3 linked regions of the Homo sapiens genome follow. The protein of the gene in region 2 binds, or shares a complex with, the protein of the main gene of each other region. Each region holds a gene or a part of one and is shown on either strand. Other genes may lie near its edges.

Region 1 (7,434 bases), on a different chromosome or scaffold from region 2:
CTGAATGGCAAGAAGGAGCTGGCAGGGGATGCTCCAGGAAGGGGTGCTCCAGGCAGGGGGAACAACAGGTGCAAAGCCCTGAGGCAGGAACAAGCTCAGCCAGTGTGGCTGGAGGGGGAGGGTGAGGAGGAGGTCAGGTCAGAGAGGCGAGTGGCAGCCCAGGCTCGAAGGAGTCTGGACTGTGATCTGGGCAGAATGGGGGGACTCTTGGGGGATTTGAAGGAGAAGAGTTATGTGGTCTGATTCATGATTTTCAAAGATCTCTGTGGCCACCATTAGGAAGTATAGGTCGTGGCTGGGCACGGTGGCTCACACCTATAATCCTAGCACTTTGGGAGGCTGAGGCGGGTGGATCACCTGAGGTCAGGAGTTCGACACCAGCCTGGCCAACACGGTGAAACCCTGTCTCTATTAAAAATATATATAAAAAAAATTAGCTAGGCATGGTGGTGGGCGCCTATAATCCCACCTACTGGGGAGGCTGAGGCAGGAGAATCGCTTAAACCCAGGGGGCAGAGGTTACAGTGAGCCGAGATCGTGCCCCTTCACTCCAGCCTGGGCGAAAGAGTGAAACTCCATCTCAGGAAAAAAAAAAGGAGGTAGAGTTGGTGTGTACAGGGGCCCAGGAGCAGAGTACTCCCCAAAGAAGCCTCCAGCTCTGTAGGGCGCTGTTTGAAACCCATGGCTATAGGCTGTAGAGAGCACATGGGATGTCTGAGTGCGCAGTGGCACAGTGAGGCTGGGCTCTAGAATGATCCCTCATCCTGGTTCTGAGGGGCTCCGACAATCAGAAGCCAGCTTAGGTGGTGGAGAGGCTGTGTGGGGAGGGGAGGAGGGAGATCCTCTCTGCCGCCCCGCACCCCCAGGTGCCTTCCACCCGCAGCCCTGGTGGGAAGGACAGGGGAACCCTGTCCCCATGAGTGCACAGCTGAGGACACTGAAGCTCAGGGGGGCAGTGACGGACAAGGGAGAGGAGGAGCTGGATTTGAGCTCATAGGTGACGAGTCCCTCCCTGCAGACCCTGCCCGTGGGCAGTGTGGTGTTCTCCGTGCTGGCCGTGGATAAAGACATGGGGTCTGCAGGCATGGTCGTGTACTCCATAGAGAAGGTGAGTGTGAAGGGGGCCCTGACCGCCTTTGTGACCGCCAGGGGGCAGCATCTCCACAGACAACCCACAGGGCCTGAACGTTGGGGTGGGGACATTGGTCCTGCCTTGGCCCAGCCCTGGTCCCCAAACCGTCCTCTGGCCACCAGCCCCCCTCCCCGGAAACCTCGCCTTGCCCGCTTACCTAAAGAGGGTGCCTGCTGCAGACCAGACCCTTCTTCCTGCCCGCCTGCTCCCAGGTCTTGTCCAAATTCCACAGACAATAAGGGGTGTGTAAACCCATTTCTCATGGAAACAGACTTGCTGTTGATAGCGCCATTTACCGAGCACCAACCACGTGCCTGGCACATACTGTATAGTCGCCCCTTGGTATCCGTGGGGACTTGGCTCCAGGATCCCTGAGGACACCAAAATCCATGGCTGCTCAAGTCCCTGACATGCAACGGGGTAGTATTTGCATGTAACCTAGACACATCCTCCTGTGTGCTTTAAATCACCTCTAGGTTACCTCCAATACCAATGCAATGCAAATACTATGTAACTATAGCATGTTATGCTATATTGTTTAGGGAATCATGGCAAGGGAAAAAGTTTGTACACCTTCAGTACAGACGCAACCATTGTGAGTGAGCCTAGCTACAGTTTTGATCTGTGCTGGTCAAATCTGTGGATGTGGAAGCCACAGAGATGGAGGGCCGACTGCATCTTATTGGATCCTCCTTTCAACCCACTGAGGGTTGTCACCAGCCCCATTTCCTGGAGCTGGAAACTGAGGCTCAGAGAGGTCATATGACCTGGTGCCAGTGGCGTGACTGGTCAGTGGCAGAGCTGGGACCTTCCCTGCGTTGCTCAGAGTGGGGTCCTCGGTGCAGGGCTGTCCCTAGGGAGCCTGACCCAAGTCTGCTCTGCCCCAGGTCATCCCTAGCACTGGGGACAGCGAGCATCTCTTCCGGATCCTGGCCAATGGCTCCATAGTCCTCAATGGCAGCCTCAGCTACAACAACAAGAGCGCTTTCTACCAGCTGGAGCTGAAGGCCTGTGTGAGTGGGGGTGCCGGCAGGCGGGCCTAGGACCCACGGCGCTGGCTCACGGGTGGCCATCTCCCCGCAGGACTTGGGCGGCATGTACCACAACACCTTCACCATCCAGTGCTCCCTGCCTGTCTTCCTGTCCATCTCCGTGGTGGACCAGCCTGACCTTGACCCCCAGTTTGTCAGGGAGTTTTACTCGGCCTCTGTGGCTGAGGATGCAGCCAAGGTGCACGGGGGACCTGTGGGGTGTGGGTGGAGGCGGGAGGCGGGGAAGTTTGAGGAGCACTGACCAGGCCCCATTCCAGGGAACCTCGGTGCTGACGGTGGAGGCTGTGGATGGCGACAAAGGCATCAATGACCCTGTGATCTACAGCATCTCCTGTGAGAACGGGGTGTCCCCAGGCCAGGGCTGGGCCGGGGCCAGGGTGGGGTCTCCGTCAGAGTCCCTGGAGGCAATGGGCCTGGGGCTCCGTCAGAGCCACTGGAGCAGCTGTTCCAGCTGTTCCGCCTTTCTCCTTGCCAGACTCCACGCGGCCCGGCTGGTTTGACATCGGGGCAGATGGGGTGATCAGGGTCAACGGCTCCCTGGACCGTGAGCAGCTGCTGGAGGCGGATGAGGAGGTGCAGCTGCAGGTCACGGTGAGCAAAGGCCCCACCACCCCTGTCAGAACCCTGCTCTCTAACCTCTGGCCTTTGATCTCTCTCTCTGAGCACTGGCTCTCTGCCCTCTGCCCTCTGCTCTGTGCCTCAGGCCACCGAGACACACCTCAACATCTACGGGCAGGAGGCCAAGGTGAGCATCTGGGTGACAGTGAGAGTGATGGACGTCAATGACCACAAACCTGAGTTTTACAACTGCAGCCTCCCAGCCTGCACCTTCACCCCCGAAGAGGCCCAAGTGAACTTCACTGGCTACGTGGACGAGCATGCCTCCCCCCGCATCCCCATCGATGACCTCACCATGGTGGTCTACGACCCGGACAAGGCAGGCGTGGTGGCGTGGGTGTGGGCGGGGGTGGCTGGGGGAGGCCAGTGGGAGCCTGGATCGAGTGACGGTGTCATGTGGTGCTGGGTGGCGGTGCTGGTGGTGCAGGGTGTGATGGCGGAGAATGGGGGTGCTGGGTGCTCTCTGGAAGCCTGTGTTGGTAAGCAGTATCATCCTCTGGGCGATCCGTGTGGGGCTGAATAGAAGGCCATGCTGAGTGGAGGCTGACGTAGAACGTCAGATGATGCTGAGTAGAACATCATTGTCCGTGGTGATGGGTGGCTGGCGAGGTCTCCTGGCATTGGGCGGCCATGATTTGGGTAGTCCTGGGAACTGGGGGAGGCTGAGCAGTGTTGGGACAAGTGGTCTGAGGGTGTGAGGTGGGAGGGTGCTCTTTTTTTTTTTTTTTGAGATGGAATTTCGCTCTGTCACCCAGGCTGGAGTGCAATGGCCCAATCTTGGCCCACTGCAACCTCTGCCTCCCAGGTGGAAGGGATTCTCCTGCCTCAGCCTCCCAAGTAGCTGTGATTACAGGTGTGCACCACCTCGCCCAGCTAATTTTTGTGTTTTTAGTAGAGATGGAGTTTCACCATGTTGGCCAGGTTGGTCTTGAACTCCTGACCTCAAGTGATCCACCTACCTTGGCCTCCCAAAGTGCTGGGATTGCAGGCGTGAGCCACCGCGCCCAGCCATGGGAGGCACTCTTAAGTGGAGGCTGCAGTGAGAGGTGGGTAACACGGTGGCGCTGGAGGATGAGTAACTCTGGAGGGTGTATGGTGTTAGGTGATACTGAGGGGTTGGAAATGTTGCGTGGAGGACAGTGTCGGGTGGGGTTAGGTTGGCCAGAAGGGTGGCACTGGCCAGTGGGGTGACGTAGGGTGTGAGTGGTGTTTGGTGTTGCTGTGGGGGCTGGGGGTGGGGGATGTGAAGGGTGGGTGGGAGGGACAGCTGACAGGAGTGAGGGGTGTGTGTCCAGGCTCCAGCCCAGGTCTGGGACCCACAGTGCCTAGGGAGCTGTCTTCTACAGAGCCTGCATTTGCAGGGACTGGTGACCAGCCCAGCCTCCTGCACCCTCTCTCGCAGTCTTTTGAGAGCCCCCTTCCATGGGACCTCATCGGGCGGGGCATCCAGAGATAGAAGCCTGGGGACTGGGGGAAGATGCAGGTGGGCAGAGCAGGGGGACAGGTCCCTGCTAGACAGCCCACCTTTACAGGGCAGCAATGGCACCTTCCTGTTGTCGCTGGGGGGCCCCGATGCAGAAGCCTTCAGCGTCTCCCCGGAGCGGGCAGTGGGCTCAGCCTCCGTTCAGGTGCTGGTGAGAGTATCCGCGCTGGTGGACTACGAGAGGCAGACGGCGATGGCGGTGCAGGTGAGGGCTGCTCCGGGGTGCCAGGGGCAGAAGCCGAGGGGCACTTGGGCCCCACAGCTGCTGCCTCCTCCCCTGCCCCCAGGTTGTGGCCACAGACTCCGTCAGCCAGAACTTCTCCGTCGCCATGGTGACCATCCACCTTAGAGACATTAATGACCACAGGCCCACGTTTCCCCAGAGCTTGTACGTCCTCACGGTGCCAGAGCACAGCGCCACCGGCTCTGTGGTCACCGACAGCATCCACGTGAGTGATGTGGACACAGTGGGGCTGTGGGGTCCCAGCAAGCGGGCGTGCATGTGTGAGTGTGAGAGTGTGTGTGTGTGTATGTGTGAGATGGGGGTGGCCATGAGTGAATCTGAGTGTGCTGGGGATTCTCCCTTTGTGTGAGGAAGCACGACAGCTCTGTCCCCACGAGCTGCATGGGTGGCGGTGCGTGCATCGCCTCCACACAGCACCCTGCCATGTCTCTGCCTCACAGGCCACGGACCCAGACACGGGCGCGTGGGGCCAAATTACCTACAGCCTGCTCCCAGGAAATGGGTAAGGGCTCAGGGTGGGCCGTAGGCAGGTGGGTGAGCAGGGCCCAGGCCCACCTCTCTGCCTCTCTGCAGAGATAGAATAGCTGGGGAAGACCGAAGGCACTCAGTTACATTTCAATTTCAGATAAACAAGGAATGACTTTTTGAAATAATGAATATGTTGCATATACTGCATGGGATATGCTGAAATATTTGTTGTTGTATATCTGAAATTCACACTGAAATGGGCATCCTGTGTCTCTATTTGCTGAACCTGGCCCCTCTGAGCAGGGCAGACCTCTTCCAAGTGGATCCCGTCTCAGGGACGGTGACGGTGAGGAACGGTGAGCTGCTGGACCGGGAGAGCCAGGCCGTGTACTACCTGACGCTGCAGGCCACAGACGGCGGGAACCTGTCCTCCTCCACCACACTGCAGATCCACCTGCTGGACATCAACGACAATGCACCCGTGGTTAGCGGCTCCTACAACATCTTCGTCCAGGAGGAGGAGGGCAATGTCTCCGTGACCATCCAGGTGTGAGCCTGCCTGGACCTGGTGGGTAAGGCTGGGGGAGGGGACCAAGCCTGCTCTGTGGGCATGCTGGCCCTGGGTAAAGTCGGGGCTCCGCTGTGTGGCTCTGAGACAGTCACTCAGAGTCTCTGTTTCCTCCCAGGAAATGAAGAAAATTATAGCCTTACTCTCAGGGTCATTGGGGAATAATTTAATGACTTGTGTGAGGAGCTCAGCACTGGGCCTGCCAGAGAAATCCCTCAAAAACATACACTTCTTTTTTATTTACCCACCTGCCCCACTCCAAAAAGGACTTGAGGTGGCTTAGATAAATAGTAAGATAAAAATATGAAAGAAATAAGAAAAAAGAGAAAATAAAGGTGGCATTTGTTAAAGGGCACAAGGTAAAATTAGAACCCAGTGCTACAGAATTGCTTGGAGTGAGCTGCAAATTCTGATCTGAGCTTCATGGTGGCCAAAGCAAAAAAGGAAATGAGATCAGTGGCCAGGTTCACAGAGTTCATGAGATAAAAACCCACTAGTGACTCCAGAGAAACACCGGGGAGTAGCTTCCTCCCTCGTCCTGAGGAGTTCGGAAGCTTCGCCCCTGAGGCATCTTGTGAGAAGTGAGAAACCAGGTCCTCAGAGTGACAATCTGGTGGCCACAGAGCCCTCCCGTCTTTCCAGGACTGTGTAGTTTCCAGAGCATGTTCCTATCCCTGATCTCTTGACCAGCTTTGGAAGCAGGCGGTCTAATAGTTCCCATTTCTCAGGAGACAACAGGCTCAGAAAGGTTAAGTGATTTTCTGTGGTTACACAGCCAGTAAATGATGGCGCTGGGGCTGCAGCCCAGACCTCTCTGGCCCTGAAGCCTTGGCCTTTCCTCCTTCCTGCTTGGCACTTCTCCCCTGGTCTGTGAGCTCCTTGGGGCAGGAGCATTTCTGGTCGGCTGCTGTAACCGTGGTGCCCAGCATGAGCCCCAGGGAGCACTTGATGAATTAACTGGCCTGAGTTCAGGGCACCAAAGGATGAGCAGACAGGATGAGGCTTTTGGAAAAAATAAACATCTCCAGCTGCTTTCAAAGGATGCATGTAATAAACAAGGTCCCAGCAGAATGAAATGGAGGAGCTGAAGGTGGAGACTGGCTGGGAGGAAGGAAAGAATTGGTTGAGTCGGAGTGGTCCCACTCTGGATTCAAGGCCACGTTTGCTGAGCACTTACCCAGTCTTTGGCTGGGCCCTGAGTCCTCAGAGATGAGTCCACCACCATTCCTGCCCCCCAGGCGGCTCCCAGTTAGGAAGAGGGCGTCAGACAGTCACCCAGCGGTGTCACCTGTGCTATGTTGAGGCCCAGAGGAAGCGCCAACCTGGCCTGGAGTCAGGCAGGGAAGGTGTGGGAGGCATCGGGGTGAGGGAACGGAACCTGCAAAGGCCTGGCGGCACAGAGGAACCCGCTGTGTTATCCACACTGGTTCACCCCAAAGACAAACCAAGCATGCCTTCAGGGCCCTGGCAGGACAGGAACACACACACACACTCACGCACGCACTCACACACGCACTCACACACACACTCACACACGCACTCACACACACTCACACACGCACTCACAGACATACAAAGTGAGTGAAGAATCAGCTATTTAAAACATATAGCGCTGACGGCCGGGCATGGTGGCTCCTGCCTGTAATCTCAGCACTTTGGGAGGCCGAGGTGGGTGGATCACTTGAGATCAGGAGTTCGAAACCAGCCTGGCCAACATAGTGAAACCCCATCTCTACTAAAATTACAAAAATTAGCTGGGTGTGGTGGTGCATGCCTGTAATCCCAGCTACTTGGGAGGCTGAGGCAGGAGAATCACTTGAATCCAGGAATTGGAAGCTGCAGTGAGCTGAGATCATGGCACTGCACTCC
Region 2 (8,287 bases):
GTGAGCCAAGATCACGCTACTGCACTCCAGCCTGAGTGACAGAGAGACTCCATCTCAAAAAAACACAAAAGACAATGTCAGCAAAGATTTATGTACAAGGATAGTCATCATAGCCCTATTCAAACTAGGGAAAACAAACTATGTGTCCAAAAGAGGGGTTGGCTAAGAAATGTATTTGTTGACTAGAGTCCTACAAAGTCCCTGAAATTTATAGAAGAATATTAAAATGTATTTGTATGCACTATAGTATATATAGAGAGAACTATATACATCTTAGTAGCATGGCATTATAGGACATTTTTTCTTCATGTTTTGTGTGCGTCTGTATGGTTTAATTTTCTGGGTTCAGCTCATGTTACTTTTGTAATTAAAGACTAGCAGAACCAGGCTGAGTGCTGTGGCTCACACCTGTAATCTCAACACTTTGGGAGGCTGAGGCAGGAGGATTATTTGAGCTCAGGAGTTCGAGACCAGCCTGGGCAACAAAGCGAGGCCCTGTCTCTAGTAAAAATAAAAAATAAATAAAGACCAGCAGAAGAGTTATTGTAAGAGAATATTTCAGGCTTTCAAAGGAGAGAAAGAGAGAGAACACCTAAGCATTACTATTCAAAATGTCCTCAAATGGAACAAGAGCTCTCTGCTGAGAAGAACCCCAGAACCCCCAAACCCTCTTCTAGGAGGACAAACTCACTGGTTGATACAGTTTGGATCTGTGAGATTTGGTGGGGAACAAACCTCAAATCAAATTGTAATCCGCAATGTTGGAGGTAGGGACTGGTGGGAGGTGACTGGATCGTGGGGGCGAATTTCTCATGAATGGTTTAGCACCATTCCCCTTGGTACTGTCCTCATGATAGTGAGCTCTCATTAGATCTGGTTTCTAGCACCTCCCCCCTTGCTCTCTTGCTCTTGCTTCTGCCATGTGAGATGCCTTTTCCTTCTGCCATGATTGGAAGCTTCCTGAAGGCTCCCCAAAAGCAGAAGCTACTATACTTCCTGTACAGCCCGTAGAACTATGAGCCAGTGAAACCTCTTTTCTTTATAAATTACCTAGGCCCAGGCATTTCCTTATAGCAATGCAAGAATAGGCTAATACTTTGATTTTAAAGTAACTGACATCTTGCAGTTTGTGGAATGAGGTAGACTTTCAGTAGATGGAGAAAGCTGGGGAACCCTAGGCTGAGTAGGAGAAGAGATGAGATGACTGGAGAAGGCTGGCTGATGGGGATCGATGTGTCTGAGAAAAGAAAGTCTTATTCAGACAAGAGAGATGGGGAAGATCTGCTTCACTCACTTTCTCATTCAATCTTCAACTCAGGAACTCTCCCAATCCTGGGTTCTTCTGACACTTCCTAAATGTCCCCTATTTTAATAAAGGGTGTCAACATCCAAAACCTGGGACCTTAACCCTCCTTTTCCTTTATCTGCCCACATCCAGTCAATCATTATTGATTCTACATCCAAACTGCCACTCAAATCCAACCATATCTTCCCATTCCCAATGTCACTACCCTAGTCCAACTCATCTCGACCACTAAAACAGTCCCCAAACATTCTCTCCGACTGTTATCCATCTACCTGAGTGAGTTTTGTAAACATAAATCTACTCTGGCAGCTTCCCTACCCAAGACATGGCTTCCTGGGCCCTTAGGATAAAGTCCTTACCAGAGTTGACAAGGCTCTTTGTGATCTGGTCTTATCTCTTATACTTGTCCTGACCCCACTCCTACTTGAACCACATCCAGCCATACTCAGCTTCTCTAGTTCTCAGAACTAGAGCAGTTTTCCATCTTAGGGAAAACACTCTTTCGTCTAGCCAACTTGTTCTCATTTTCCTAATCCCAGCTTAAATGCTTTCCCCTTAGGGAAGCCTTCCCTCACCCCTGAGATTGAGGTAGATGCCTATTTAGTGCCCTCTATTTCCCTTTTTGTAACAAATATCATAGATGAGCCAGGCACAGTGGCTCACAGCTGTAATCCCAGCACTTTGGGAGACCGAGGCTGTCAGATCGCTTGAGCTCATAAGTTGAAGACCATCCTGGGCAACATGGCAAAACCCCATCACTACAAAAAGTACAAAAATTGCTGGGCATGGTGGTGCACACCTCTTGTCCCAGCTACTCGGGAGGCTCAGATGGGAGGACCACTTGAGCCTGGGGCTCAAGGCTGCAGTCAGCTATGATCTTGACACTGCACTCCAGCCTGAGTGACAGAGTGAGACCCTGTCTCAGAGCAAACATGCACACACACACACACACAAATATCATAGATGTCTTGTCTTCCCCTCTCAAATCTGCTCACTATGACAGGGACTGTGGCTGTCTTGTTGATCACAGTGTGCCCAGTGGCTAGCAAAATATCTCTTATCTTAAGAGATAAGTGGCTGGCACATAACAAATACTGAATAAATGGGTATTCAATTGGATTCACTTGGCTCCTTTATTTACCTTGTCCTTTTCTCTTTCTTTACCCCTCTTGGGTTACGGTTGCCAACACAACCTAGCCCTCTGATAACAGGCAGAACAAGCAGAGGAACTAGCTTACTCCTCCATTAAAATCTGGGCAAAGAGATGGGGTGTGTGTGTGTGTGTGTGTGTGTGTGTGTGTGTGTGTATCTATCCACTAGCCAAAGAAGTGATAGAGTTAAGATAGGCTAAAGAGTCCTTGTAGAGCCAGCAACTCCATTCAAAAGAGCAAGACCCTGTGTCAAAAATAAAAAATAAAAAAATCATGAGCTTGCACTGGGATTGAAAGTTAATAAAAGACTGTGAGATTTTGATGGCATAGATAAAAAAAAAACTAAAACCATGTCATTTGTTCCAACCAAGGTTGGCAACTTAAAACCAAGTAAAACAATGGCCTCTTTGAAAAGAGAAAACTATTTAAATTTCATGAAAAGCATTTTTAAAGGCATAGAATTAAAATATCTTCCCTCTTCCCCATGCAGATAATGCCGTAGTTCAGGGTCTCTCCTCTGATTGTGGCTAAGGGATGAGCCACTCCTATAGTGCCAGTCCTCAGTGAGAAAAGAGAGCATCTCTAGGCATAGTTTTCTCTCTTTCTCTAAAAATCCAATCATTTAGACAATCTAGAAAGAGGATAAAGTATTTGTATTGACGTCCCTGCCTCTTGCTGCTGTCTGCAAAAACCTACCATGAACACTGTTTCCAACAGAAACCATCGGGTTGAACTTACCCTCTACTGCAGATTATCTCTAGGGCTTCCAAGTTCCCATGGTAGGCTGCCAAGAGAGTAGGAGTCATGCCGTCTTCATCCGAAAGATTTAGATCTCGCTTGGTAGCCTCTTTTAGAAGTTCCAGGTAACTATCACTAGCAGCTTGGTGGTAACGAGTAGACATTTTTCCTGCTCACCAGAACTTGGCCAGATGTCTCTCCAGGCAGAGCAAGGTGTTGGCGGAGCAACCTTCCTATAGAGCTGGTTAATTAGTGACAAGGAAGAGTGTCACCAGGGGCAAAGCTCATTTCAACTGCTTCCTTTCACGGAAGGCAACAAGGTTCGAGGCACTGAACTTGGACCTTTTCTCTCTGGAATGGCCATGACGTTGACTATTGAAGACTGCTGTATTCATCTTGAGTGTTTGGAGGTACATTCAATTTTTCTATGTCCATTAGTTTCTTGAGTGTAATATTGGCCATCTAGGCACAGGATGTAAGAAATAATTTCTTAATAAAATGCAGAGCTACTCTAGTTCACTAGCTGTTTTTTCCAAAAAGAACAGCTTTATTGAGGTATAACATCATTAAATTTACCCATTTCATGCATACAATTCAATGATTTTTAGGACATTTATAGAGTTGCATGCCCATTATCATAATCCAGTTTCCATCAGCCCTTAAAGATCCCTCATGCCATTTGCTGTCAATCCCATTTCCACTCCCAACCTCAGGAAACCACAGTCTGCTTTCTGTCTCTATAGATTTGTTTTTTACGGGCATTTCAGACAAATGGAATCCTACAATATATAGTCTTTAGTGTATAGCTTGTTTCAATTCACATACTTTTTTGAGGTTTGTCATGTGTAGCATGTAATGGTTTCTTTCTTTTCACTGCTGAATAATATTCCACTGTGCTAACATACCACATGTTCTTCATCCATTCAATGTTTCATGAATATGATGAATATTTGGGTTGTTTCCATTTTTCAGTAATGATGAATAATGCTGCTATGAGCACTGATGTACAAGTCTCTGTGTGGACACATATTTTCATGTGTCTTGCGTATATATCAAGGAGTGAAACTGCTGGGTTGCATGGCAATTTACATTTAAATTTCAGAAGTTGCCAGACTGTTTTCCAAAGTGGCTGTACTACTTCACATTTCCACCAATAACGTATGAGGGTTTCAATTTCTCCACAACCTTGCCAGCCTTATTATTGCCTATCTTTTTGTTTATGGTCATCCTAGTGGATATGAAGTGGTCTTATTATGGCTTTAATTTTCAATTTCCTAATGACTAAGATATTGAGCATCTTTTCATGTGCCCATTAGCCATTCTTACATCTTCTATTCAAATCTTTTTGCCCAATTTTTAAGTGGTTGTCTTATTAATAAATTATAAGAATTATTTATATACTCTGGATACAAGTCCTATATCAGACATATTTGGAACAGAATGAAAATGAAAATACCACATATCAAGATTTATAGGATGCAGTTAAAGAAAAGCTTAGGGCAAAATTTGTAGTTTTTTATGCATATATGAGAAAGAAAAAAGATCTCAAATCAATAACTTAAACATATTATCAATAACTCAAGGGAAGGAGAAAAAGTATAGAAAAATGACTATAAGGAGTACAATATAAGACCAAAAAATTTCCAGATCTGTAATAAAAACAAAAGAAAATGGACTAAATTTATGATGTGGAAGACTCAGCCATGTCTTGTTTATAATAGACATATCTAAAATATAAAATTGCAGAAAGATTGAAAGCAAAAAATGGAAAAGTTATAGCAAGCAAATACTAACAAAACATTGGTGTACCCACATAGATGGTCTGCAACTTATGAGAGTTTGACCTAATTTTTCAACTTTATGATGGCACAAAAATGACAGGTATTTAGTATGCTTCTCAGCTCACAACTGAGTTATTATATCAACTTATGGTGGTTTTGCATTGTAAGTTGAAGAGCACCCGTATTGGTAGCAAGGAAAAATATAGCTTAAGCCAAAAAAATTTACTAGGCATAAAGAGAGATAATACATGATAATGAAAGGAACAATTAATCAAGAAACTATGATCGTTTTAAACTTGTATAAATTAAATAACACAGCTGCAAAAAAGGGAAAGCAAAAATTAAACAGAAAAAAAAAAACAAAACCACAATCATAAGGGAAGATTTCAGACATCATCATAATGTTCTATATCAGACTAAAGATTGGTATAGCTATAAAATATTTGGGCCGGGCACAGTGGCTCACACCTGTAATCCTAGCACTTTGAGAGGCTGAGGGGGTGCAGATCACGAGGTCAAGAGATTGAGACCATCCTGGCCAATATGGTGAAACCACGTCTCTACTAAAAATACAAAAATTAGCTGGGCATGGTGGCATGTGCCTGTAGTCCCAGCTACTCGGGAGGCTGAGGCAGGAGAGTCGCCTAAACCCGGGAGGCGGAGGTTGCAGTGAGCTGAGATCGCACCATTGCACTCCAGCCTGGTGACAGAGTGAGACTCCATCTCAAAAAAAAAAAAAAAGAAGAAAAACAGATTTGAACACAATTAACAAGCTTGATCTAACAGTCACATGGAGAAAGGACCCTGTGCCCAATAGTAAATGCATGTTTTTTCTAAGCACACAGAATATTTATAAAACCTGACCACTGAATAGAAGCAGTGCAGTTCTCGACAAATAACAAATAACAGGGTTCATGCAAACCGTGTTCTCTGAAGACACTGCAACTAAATTAGAAACCGCCATCCTTACATAACTCATCAACTATGCATATGTTCTCCTGTGGTGTATTTTTTACATTGTTTTCATCAAATACATATAATTTTACATTACATCTTTTCCACTCCTTAATCCATCATAAATATATCCCCATATTGTTACACAATCTTTAATATATTTAGATAATTGTCCACTAAACTGATGTGAGAAATATCTATTTTTGAAGCCTGTAACTGTATATTCCTCTTATCTCTTTTTGTCTAAGTTTTTATTCCAAGATAAATTATTTACCCACTCAGAAAAAGTACAAAGCTTTCATCTACAGTTTCTTCACAATAATAATGAGCTCCAAAGGTCACTGTTTGTTCCTTTTTCTGGCTTCTAGGTGAAGAGCAGTAGAAGCAGCCTGGAGGGCAGCATTATTTAGCTTTTTTTAAACATTGTTTTTAGCCCAGAGAGAGTGACATATCCAAACATGATTATGAATACTGTGAGAAAATGGTAAGGTTCTTCATCAAGTTTTGCATGAGCCACTTTAATTTAGATACAACTGCATTCATTAATGCACTTTGAAATTTAAAAACAGGTCAGGCGAGGTGGCTCACGCCTATAATCCTAGCACTTTGGGAGGCAAAGGTGGGTGAATCACTTGAGGTCGGGAGTTGAAGACCCACTTGGCCAACATGGCAAAACCCCATCTCTACTAAAATACAAAAATTATCTGGGCATGGTGGTGCACACCTGTAAGCCCAGCTACTCATGAGGCTGAGGCAGGAGAATTGATTGAGCCTGGGAGGCTGAGGTTGCAGTGAGCCAAGATCACACCACTGCACTCCAGCCTGGGTGACAGAGTGCAAAAAAAATAAAAAATAAAAATACATATAACCGATAGAGAACTTCTCAAAGATGTATTATTTGTAGTAGAATCCTAAGACTCCAGCCAAAGGGTCTGCTTTCAGAAGATAAGGATGAGGAAGAGGAAGAGAAAGAGAAGAATAGTGGCCACTAGGATGGTCATAAGCCAAATTAGGATGAGGATTGTCAAAGTCAAAATAAAAATTTAGAGCTGAATCTCTAAATTTAATGTTTTATTTGGAAAAAGACTTGCAATTTGGGATACACACATAGACCAGGTGGTCTTCAGTATGTCTGAAGAAGAAAAGAGAAGTTTAGAGGTTTTATTAACAAGAGAAATGTTACATATTGCTCTTCAAGAAAGTTCATTGGCACTAGTAAGGGTTTGGGGAGCTGGCAAGCTCTGATTAGTGGGCAAAATTTGTCCTAGAGTTGCAGCAAGTTATCTCAGCAGCTGTAAATAAAACTGCTCCCGGGTTACAGCAGGCAGTTCCAGCAGTCAGTCTTGCTGAGAATTACGTTCTTGGAGCAATTTTTATTTATTTATTTATTTTTTGTACTCGGAGTGCTTTCTCCCCCAACTCCACCACCCAGCCTCTCAACCCTGATTTAGTTGGGTATAACAAGAATGATGCAATTTGCGTGATTAAGTTTCACAGGATGGAGGCAAAGGGTAAAGAGGACAGAATAATTATAGAGATGGGGAAGAAGGATTGGAGATAGAAGACAAGAAAGAGAAAGAATTTCTCAGTTCCAGCAGTCCTTAGGACTAGAACTTAAAGTCTCCTGTGAAATGGCGAAATAACCAAACTTTCTTAAATGGTAAATATCCTGGCATCCTCTGGCACGCCCTTGGGAAAATTTCCTCCTTGGGAGAAGAATGGGGTGGCAGGGGCAGCGGGGGGTGGGGAAGTGGGGGCAGAGATAAGGATTTAAAACATTTTTCTGAACTTGAAGATCCTCCTTATCCTATCCCTTCAAGGTGAGGTTGGGAAGGAGGGTTGAAGACCTAGCGTTCATATAATCCAGGAAAAGTTACTCCATCTATTTGAGTCTCCATATCCTTGTGGATAAAACTGGGGGATGTTGCTAGTGATCATATCATCATTATCATCAGCATCAACTAACTTTAGTAAAGATGAAGAAATAAAATTTCTTGCAACCCATAAAGCATGTTTTTACAAACTAGAAGTAGTGTGATTGTGGCTTAGGGAACAGACAGAGGAAGTTTTAGCCCAGTAATCATTTTTGAATTCCTCAAAGCCCAAAGGAAACAAAATTGGTGGGAGATGGTAAGGGCAGAAATTAATAAAAAGAGCTAACACGAATTTGCATATAATGTAGACATTAATTCCTTGTGAGGAGTCATGGTAATTGTGGGGGCAGTTGTGGATTTTCTTGACTGTACTGATCTTGTGGAAATTAGTATTTGAGCGTGTTCCATCAGCATACAGCTGGACTCTTGGAAGGCCAGAGAAGAATATTTGCCAGACACACACTGGAGAGACTTTGAGGCTCG
Region 3 (7,434 bases), on a different chromosome or scaffold from region 2:
GGACCTGTCCTGTGTCAACTATAAGTCAAAACAGCTGGAAGGCAGGAGTAAGGACCCAACCAGCAATCCTGGACTTGTGGTTGTCATGGTCCCCGTTTTCCTCTGGCAGTGTGGGCTGCCTCTTAAAGAGGCATATGGAAGCTGGGGTTGAGAAGGTGGTCAGGGAGCAGGTGGTAGAGGCTTAGACTGAAAATGGAGGTGAGGATGTGGGACGGATGAAGAGAGGAGATGGTAAGGAGAGTATGAGCTGAGGCCCCAGGACAGCACAGCCACAGCCCATAGCTGGGTGTCTGGGAGAGGCCTCCTTGTCCTGTTCCTGCCTCCATCCTTGGTCCACATACAGGGATATAGGGGCTGGAGACACTTAGTAAGCTCCTCCCACAGTTATGAATCAACCTTGGACCACCAGAGCCCTTCTCTGATGTGAGGTCCTTCCCCTCTTTTCTGCTGCTGGCTTCACCCCAGCCCCTGTTCAGAACCAAGTAGGAGGAGGACATGGTACCCAAAACATTAGGACGGTAATCCCATGAGCTAATCCACTTTCACTATGGCCCTTATTCCCTCTTCAGCAGCCTGACAGCCTGCCCATGTCAGTGTTGTGGGGGACCTGGGAGCTGGGTATGTGGAGCTGGCCCGTGAACAAGGGGAGCAGACAGATCCCTCCTACCTCGATGCTGGGGCAGATGGTCTCTGACCCACAGCTGCCCCTCCATGAAGGAACCACAGCCCAGAGCACCAAGGGCTATCCATCTAGGAGGTGGTGGTGAGGGGAGGGAGGGCCAGCATTTCTGACTAGTTCCCTTAGCCTCTCCCCTCGGCTCATGAAACTTACACTTTGGCTTGCGAAGGGGTACTGGGTGTACCTCAGCAGTGATGGTTTTAGGCAAGAGTAGCTGTTCCTTTGAGCCCCAGTCTTCTTCCCATTGCTTCTTAAACTTCTCTTCCTCCTCTACAATCCTAAAATGAGACCCCCATGCCTGTTACTGGAGTCAGAACCCCCATAGGCCCATCTCCTGCATATCGGAGAGCCCCAGCCAGCCTGGGGAGAAGCCTCATGGTTCTAGTCATGATGAATCAAGCAAAGTCCCCGAGCTTGTATTCTAAATTGAGTGTGAACCCCACCTTGGCAATTATACGAGACTATGTTTCAGTTACTATAATATGACAGGCTTTACTACAAATAAAGGAGGACCCACCAGGGGATGAGAGAACCAGGTAAACTGGTTCTGGAGGCAGCCTCTGGTTGGCCACACTCCCCTGAGCACACTGATGTTCATGCACAGACACGCGTGGAGCCGAGGTACTCACTGTTCCATCTCCTTCCGGTATCTCTCATTTTCCTCTGCTGCCTTCTGGGCAATTTCTTTTCTCCTTCTGAAACACAAATGCAGATTGGCATGTTTGGCCCTATGCAAGAGAAATGAACTCTTCCTTACTGTGAATTCTTGATTTGGAGAAAAGTTGGATTTTTCTCCAGGCTCCCTTCCTAGGAGGCCTGGACCAGCTTTGGTTTTGGGGGACGTTATCTAACAAAGTCTGGACGCTGTGCTCTTGCGTGGTTTTGTCTGGCATGGCTGAGCAGAGATGCTGGGCTGTGGGAGGAGGGAAGCAGATCCATGTGAAGGCCACACTCCATGCACCCTCCTCCAAACACTTAGGTAAGGTGACTGATGACAGGCGGGGCCTGGACTGACCCCAGGAGCAAAGCAGGGGCTCCTAGCCAGGTGGAATACTCCCAGCTAACTCTGTGTTGGGGGAGATGGGGACAGCCTTTCCTCTTTCCTTTTCAAAATACATTAATTGATTGATTGATTGAGACAAAGTCTCACTTTGCACCCAGGAGTTCAGTGGTGCGATATCAGCTCACTGCAACCTCTGCCTCCCAGGTTCAAGTGATTCTCATGTCTCAGCCTCCCGAGAAGCTGGGATTACAGTCGCATGCCACTATGCCCAGCTAATTTTTTTTTGTATTTTTAGTAGAGACACAGTTTCACCATGCTGGCCAGGCTGGTCTCGAACTCCTGACCTCAGATGATCTGCCGGCCTCGACCTCCAAAGTGCTGGGATAACAGGCGTGAGTCACTGCGTCCAGCCATGAAATACTTTTAAATGCCTAAAAGGTATTTGGATTTGGATCTTGACAGTAGTTTTTGATTTATGAATTGCTCACCCCATTTATTCTCTTAGGCCATCATTTCAATCCTCCTGGACAAGGGTGAGCTTCATCACTATAGGCAGGGCAGCCCTGTGGGGACTTGCCAGATTGCCTGGGGGTGATCCCAGCTTGGCCACGTGTGACGTTAGACACAAGTGGCTTCACCTCTCTGAGTGTCAGTCTCCACACCTCTAAAATGGGGTTAATACTCTCTACCTCCCAGGGCTATTGTGGGAATTAAGAAACATAAACAAGGCCCTAATACAACACCAGCCTTATGGAGGTACTTGACAAATGTTAGCTGGTAGCTAATCCTAGCTAGCTAGAGCCTACTGCTAGTAGGATGCTTATTTTCCATATTCTTGGAATGTTGGAAGACAGGGGGCTCTGCTCAGCAAGGAGGAAGGAGCCAGGTGGTCTGAGGCCAAGGATGGATACGCTGACCTACCACCAAACTCATCTGGTCTGAGGACTGGCCTCCAGGGAGGAGGAGGAAGTTGGCTGGGGACACAGCGGGCAGGAAGCAAGCTAGGTGGGGTCGTGTGGTGGGGTGGGAGGCGGGACAGGGCATCCAGGGCTGGCTGCACTCACTGCCGCTCCATCTCCTGCTGCTCCTGGAGGATCTTGTTGGACTCCATCGCCAGCCGCTTCTGCATGAGAAGCTCCTGCCGCTGCAGCTCACGCTGCCGCGCCTCTGCCAGCCGCTCCCGGTCTGTCATGAACAGCTCCCGGCCCTCATGGGAGAAAAGAGGCCCCTTGCTCAGCCCCCGGGGAACCTGGGGATCCCCTGACACACCCCTGGGGGCCGAGATGCAGGTGGTCTTCTCAGCACCATCAGGCACTGCGGCTCCCGCAATCCCTGACCCAAACTTCTTGCTGGGCAGAAGTCCTCTCGCTCTGCTCTGTCAGAGCTTCAGGGAAGGAGACCAGCCACCCTGGGAGTGTGTGGCAGAGATCAAAGGTCAGAGGGGCTGGGGATGAAGGTCAAGGGGCTCCCACCAGCTCATTCTGGACTTACAGCTGCAGCTACAATGGAGATGGTCAGGCTGCGGCTACTCTTCAGCACATTTACAGCCTGTGGGGACAGAAGGACAGTGGGCCGAGGCCTGACAGACCACAGCAGTCCAGGCAGAGAGCACAGAAGGCCCCAGGCTCCAGGGTGGTGGGGATGAGAAGTGGGGTGTGGAGATGACAAGGGCCAACAGGTGAAGACCCCCACATCTCACCTCCTTGTGATCCAGGTTAGAGAAGTCGACGCCATTGACTTCGACAATCTGGTCCCCTATCTGGTGGGGAAATGGAGAAAGATTAGTGTGTTTGCGCTATCTGTACACTCGCTCATCTGCAGGACAGGCTCCCCCAGGGGCTCTGGGTCAGATGCTGGATCTTCAAGTGGCAGTACCTCAGCTCCTCCTGATGAATGGAGCAGTTGGAAAGCTCTGGTGGAGCTCTGGGAGGGCTTAAAGCTGACCCTGGCACTCCCCTACTTCATAACTATCTTATCAACTATCAAATATTATACCATTACATGTTCATTTCTTTGGCTAAATTTGATGACATTTGCTTTAAAAATCACAGTTTGCAGATGCGGGAACCTTTGAGCTTCTCATTTAGCACAGGCTGTGTTGAATCGTCATAACAGAATAGCTAACATTCACTGATCACTTACAATGTGCTTGGCACAGCTCTAGTATACATATTAATTACTTTAACCCACACAACAACCTTGGAAGAAAGCCTGTATTATCCCCATCTTACAGGTAAGCAAACAGACATGAAGTAACTTGTCCAAAGAAGAGGTTAAGGGTTCCTGCTTTGGGATTGGACCACCTAGGTTTGAATCCCAGCCCTACCATATGAGGTACACGATTTTGGAAAAATCATATACTTTCTCTGGGTCTCAGTTTCCTCATATGTAAAGTGGGGATAATGGTGGTACTTAACCCTCAGCATTCTTGTGAAGTGTAAAGGGCATGGAACAATGTCTGATGCAAGTGGACACTGAAGGTCCGCTCTTTGATTACCATTACGACATTCCCAAGCTCGTGACCAACAACTATCAGAGCTGGGGAAGGCTGCAGAAGGGTCAAACATCCCCAGTCTGTGAAGCCTTCTCTGCAGGGTGGGTAGGGCTCCTACTCCCTCAGTGTCCACTGAAAGAGGGCCATGTGGAAAGGCACCTGCCCCTGTCACCGCGGGATCACAGTCTGACCCAATTTCCAGTGGGCCCCCACTGGGGCCGGCCCAGCGTCACTCACCTCCAATCCCACCTCAGCAGACAGGGAGCCAGGTTTCACATGGCTGATAAAGATGCCAGGCTTCTGGATGGGGCCGCTGGAAATGCTGCGGGAGGTGGGAAATGTGTGCTCGGGATTCAGGTAACCCATGTCCAGTGCTCAGGATACAGGTCACTCATGAGCTGAGGACTGAAGGCCCTTGACTGCCTACCTCTTCAGCCTCTGTGTCCCTCTCCAGCCTGATTTCTACTGCTACCCTGGGCAACAGCCACAGAAAAATCCTTGTAATTCTTCCTACCCAACCTCTCACCTAATATACCTCATATGCTGTTTCTTCTTTCTTTCTAGCACTTTCCTGTCCATCCATTAAGACTCAAATGCTATCCCTTCTATAAGGTTTTTACCAGATCCTCTTATTTTTTTAAATTTATTTTTTAGAGACAGGGTCTTGCTCTGTCACCCAGGTTGGAGTGCAGTGGTGTGATCATAGCTCTCTGCAACCTCCAACTCCTGGGATCAAGCAATCTTCCCACCTCAGCCTAGCTGCGACTACAGGTGTGCACCACCATGCCTGGCTCAGATCCCTTATTCTATCCCAAGACTAAACTAGCCGCTCTGTTCTCAGTGCTCCTATGACATTTACGGCAAGGATGGTACATGTACTGTTAGTATTCCTTCCTAGATTGGTGGCAGAAGTCACTCATTGATCACAGCACTCTTTCCCACAATCCTGGATACAGCTTTAGAATGCTTTTCAAAGCAGCACTCCAGGGAGCTGCTACTCATTGACTAGAGATGGCACCTATTTGCCATCCTGGACGCAGAATGTAGTCCCGTTCGAGTCCCTATCACCCTATATTATAACTATTTACTTGGTTGGCTTCTAGATTAGGCTGTTGTCTCCCAGAAAGGTGGGACTTTTTATCACTTGTGCTTGGCACAAAACATTGAATAAATGTGAATGAAAGGAAAGAACAGGGATAACTTAAATAATAATAGCTAATATTTACCAACTGCTTACTATTTAGCAGGTACTAAGTTTGGCACTTTACTTTCTCCACAACCACCCTGTGATGTGGGAATTATTATCGCCCATTTATAGAGGGAGAAACTGAGGCTCAAAGTGGTTAAGTAACTGGCCCAAGGTTCCAGAGCTCTTAAGTGGGAAAGCAGGGCTGGAACTGGGATCTGAGTAACGGTGGCACCTGCATGCTTAAGCCCCGTGTGGCCCAGTGTCTGTTCGGAATTCCCTGTCTGCCTCTTAAGGAAGCCAACAAGTTAATAAGTGACAAGAGAGCTGTGACAGAGATGACCAGCCAAACAGGCTCCTTTTGCAGTGACTCAAGGGCCCACAAGGTAACACTGTTCTGCCTCTGGGCCTCAATTTCCTCATCTGTAAATTGGGCTCTGTTAGAGATGACCCTCTGGCCCTAAAGGCCTGTCATGAAGTTCAGAGGGGAAATCAGGCACCAAGAAGTGTCAACACCAAGGCTGGGTGCGGTGCTTCATGCCTCTAATCCCAGGGCTTTGGGAGGCTGAGGTGGGAGGATCACTTGAGCCCAGGAGTTTGAGACCAGCCTGGGCAACATAACAAAACTCCATCTCTACAAAAAAATTAAAAGTTAGCTGGGTATGGCAGTGTGTTCCTGTAGATCCAGCTACTCAGGAGGCTGAGGTGGGAGGATTGCTTGAGCTGGGGAGGTTGAGGCTACAGTGAGCTATGATCATGCCACTGCACTCCAGCCTGGGCAACAGAGTCAGACCCTGTATCTAACAAAAAAAGTATCATCACCCATGGACAGTCACACCCCTGGTGGGCAAGGTTTCCTCGGAAGTGGCAGTGAGGAAGGGGAGGGCAATAGGGGCCTGCTGGGGTGCACTGGCCACGAATGACCCCAGGGCATGCCTGCCACCCACCTGCAGCCAAGGCCTCGGGAGCCTACCAGGCTGATGAAGACCTTCTTCTCCTTGTTTTCCCGATTTCCAGGGGAGCCCAGGCTGCCTCGCACGCCCTGAAAGAGAGATAGAAGCAGAATCACGGAGTGTCCACATGCGTGCAAGCGGCCTCTTGAGCTTGTGGGATCTGCAGGGCGAGCACTGCTGAACTCACGCCAGCCAGATCATCATTCCGTCCCTGGGGATGTGTCTGCACCAGCTGGGCCTGGCCGAGGGCTGCTGCCCCACAGCGGTGTGCTGGCTGCCCTGGGAGCCTGTGTGAAGCCCCTGAGGGTGCATCTCTAGAGCAAGCCCTCCCTTCAGGACCGGCCACCCCTCCTTGAAGATGACCCCACCCAAACCCCATCACAGGAGGTCTGGCCCTTACCCCAGATTCCGACACAAACTGATCCACATACTGCCAAGTGAGGGGCTCATCAGGAGAGCTGATGGGAAGGGAAAATAGATGGGAGGGTGGTTAGCGAGAGACGTTTGAGGAACCAGGCCCCACATCCAGATCCACCATGTCTAGAGCCTCCAGCCTCCACTGGCCCAGAAGCAGGGCTGGCATGGTGGGAGCCGGACCCCAGGGCTGTACCAGGATCCTGGGCCCACAGGGAAGAGTTGGCCTGCAGAGGAGGGGCCTCTCACCTTTTCACGGGGATCAGGCCGATGTCTGCGGGAGAAAGGCACAGGGGTTAGGACAGCTCCCCCGCCCTCCCTCCCTCCCACCGTCATGGAGTACTGACCTGCTCCCCCGCCCTCCCTCCCTCCCACCGTCATGGAGTACTGCCCTGCTCCCCCGCCCTCCCTCCCTCCCACCGTCATGGAGTACTGCCCTGCTCTGGCCTCACTCACGTCTCACTTTGATGGACACAGTTTTCTTGGTTCGAATGAGGTTGATGACCTCCTCATGGGTACAGGAGGAGATGGAATATCCATTGATCCGGACGATCTCGTCCCCTACCTTGACCACAGAGAGAGGCAGGGAGCACCAGGTGGAGGGAGCATCAGGCAGTGGGGCAGACTCACCACCAGATGCTCCCGGACTGCTCTCCGGAAAAGGGAAGGGTGGCTGTGCCACCCCCTGGAATAAGCCTTGATCTC

The links.
Region 1: ANKS4B (region 2) and CDHR2 share a complex: the UniProt entries of both Homo sapiens proteins name them as parts of the IMAC/intermicrovillar adhesion complex.
Region 3: ANKS4B (region 2) and USH1C share a complex: the UniProt entries of both Homo sapiens proteins name them as parts of the IMAC/intermicrovillar adhesion complex.

The regions. Positions count from the first base shown.
Region 1 is NC_000005.10:176,573,065-176,580,498, forward strand, and holds part of CDHR2 (cadherin-related family member 2 precursor), read left to right. Parts: intron 1-1,018; coding exon 1,019-1,108; intron 1,109-2,019; coding exon 2,020-2,145; intron 2,146-2,215; coding exon 2,216-2,362; intron 2,363-2,441; coding exon 2,442-2,517; intron 2,518-2,659; coding exon 2,660-2,775; intron 2,776-2,887; coding exon 2,888-3,121; intron 3,122-4,334; coding exon 4,335-4,490; intron 4,491-4,572; coding exon 4,573-4,734; intron 4,735-4,969; coding exon 4,970-5,031; intron 5,032-5,300; coding exon 5,301-5,544; intron 5,545-7,434. UniProt on the Homo sapiens protein: Intermicrovillar adhesion molecule that forms, via its extracellular domain, calcium-dependent heterophilic complexes with CDHR5 on adjacent microvilli. Thereby, controls the packing of microvilli at the apical membrane of epithelial cells.
Region 2 is NC_000016.10:21,228,810-21,237,096, reverse strand, and holds the start of ANKS4B (ankyrin repeat and SAM domain-containing protein 4B), read right to left. Parts: upstream 3,399-8,287; 5' UTR 3,360-3,398; coding exon 3,196-3,359; intron 1-3,195. UniProt on the Homo sapiens protein: As part of the intermicrovillar adhesion complex/IMAC plays a role in epithelial brush border differentiation, controlling microvilli organization and length. Plays a role in assembly of the complex.
Region 3 is NC_000011.10:17,520,038-17,527,471, forward strand, and holds part of USH1C (harmonin), read right to left. Parts: intron 7,295-7,434; coding exon 7,186-7,294; intron 7,004-7,185; coding exon 6,979-7,003; intron 6,774-6,978; coding exon 6,716-6,773; intron 6,405-6,715; coding exon 6,310-6,404; intron 4,499-6,309; coding exon 4,414-4,498; intron 3,442-4,413; coding exon 3,382-3,441; intron 3,231-3,381; coding exon 3,174-3,230; intron 2,890-3,173; coding exon 2,747-2,889; intron 1,375-2,746; coding exon 1,309-1,374; intron 958-1,308; coding exon 833-957; intron 1-832. UniProt on the Homo sapiens protein: Anchoring/scaffolding protein that is a part of the functional network formed by USH1C, USH1G, CDH23 and MYO7A that mediates mechanotransduction in cochlear hair cells. Required for normal development and maintenance of cochlear hair cell bundles.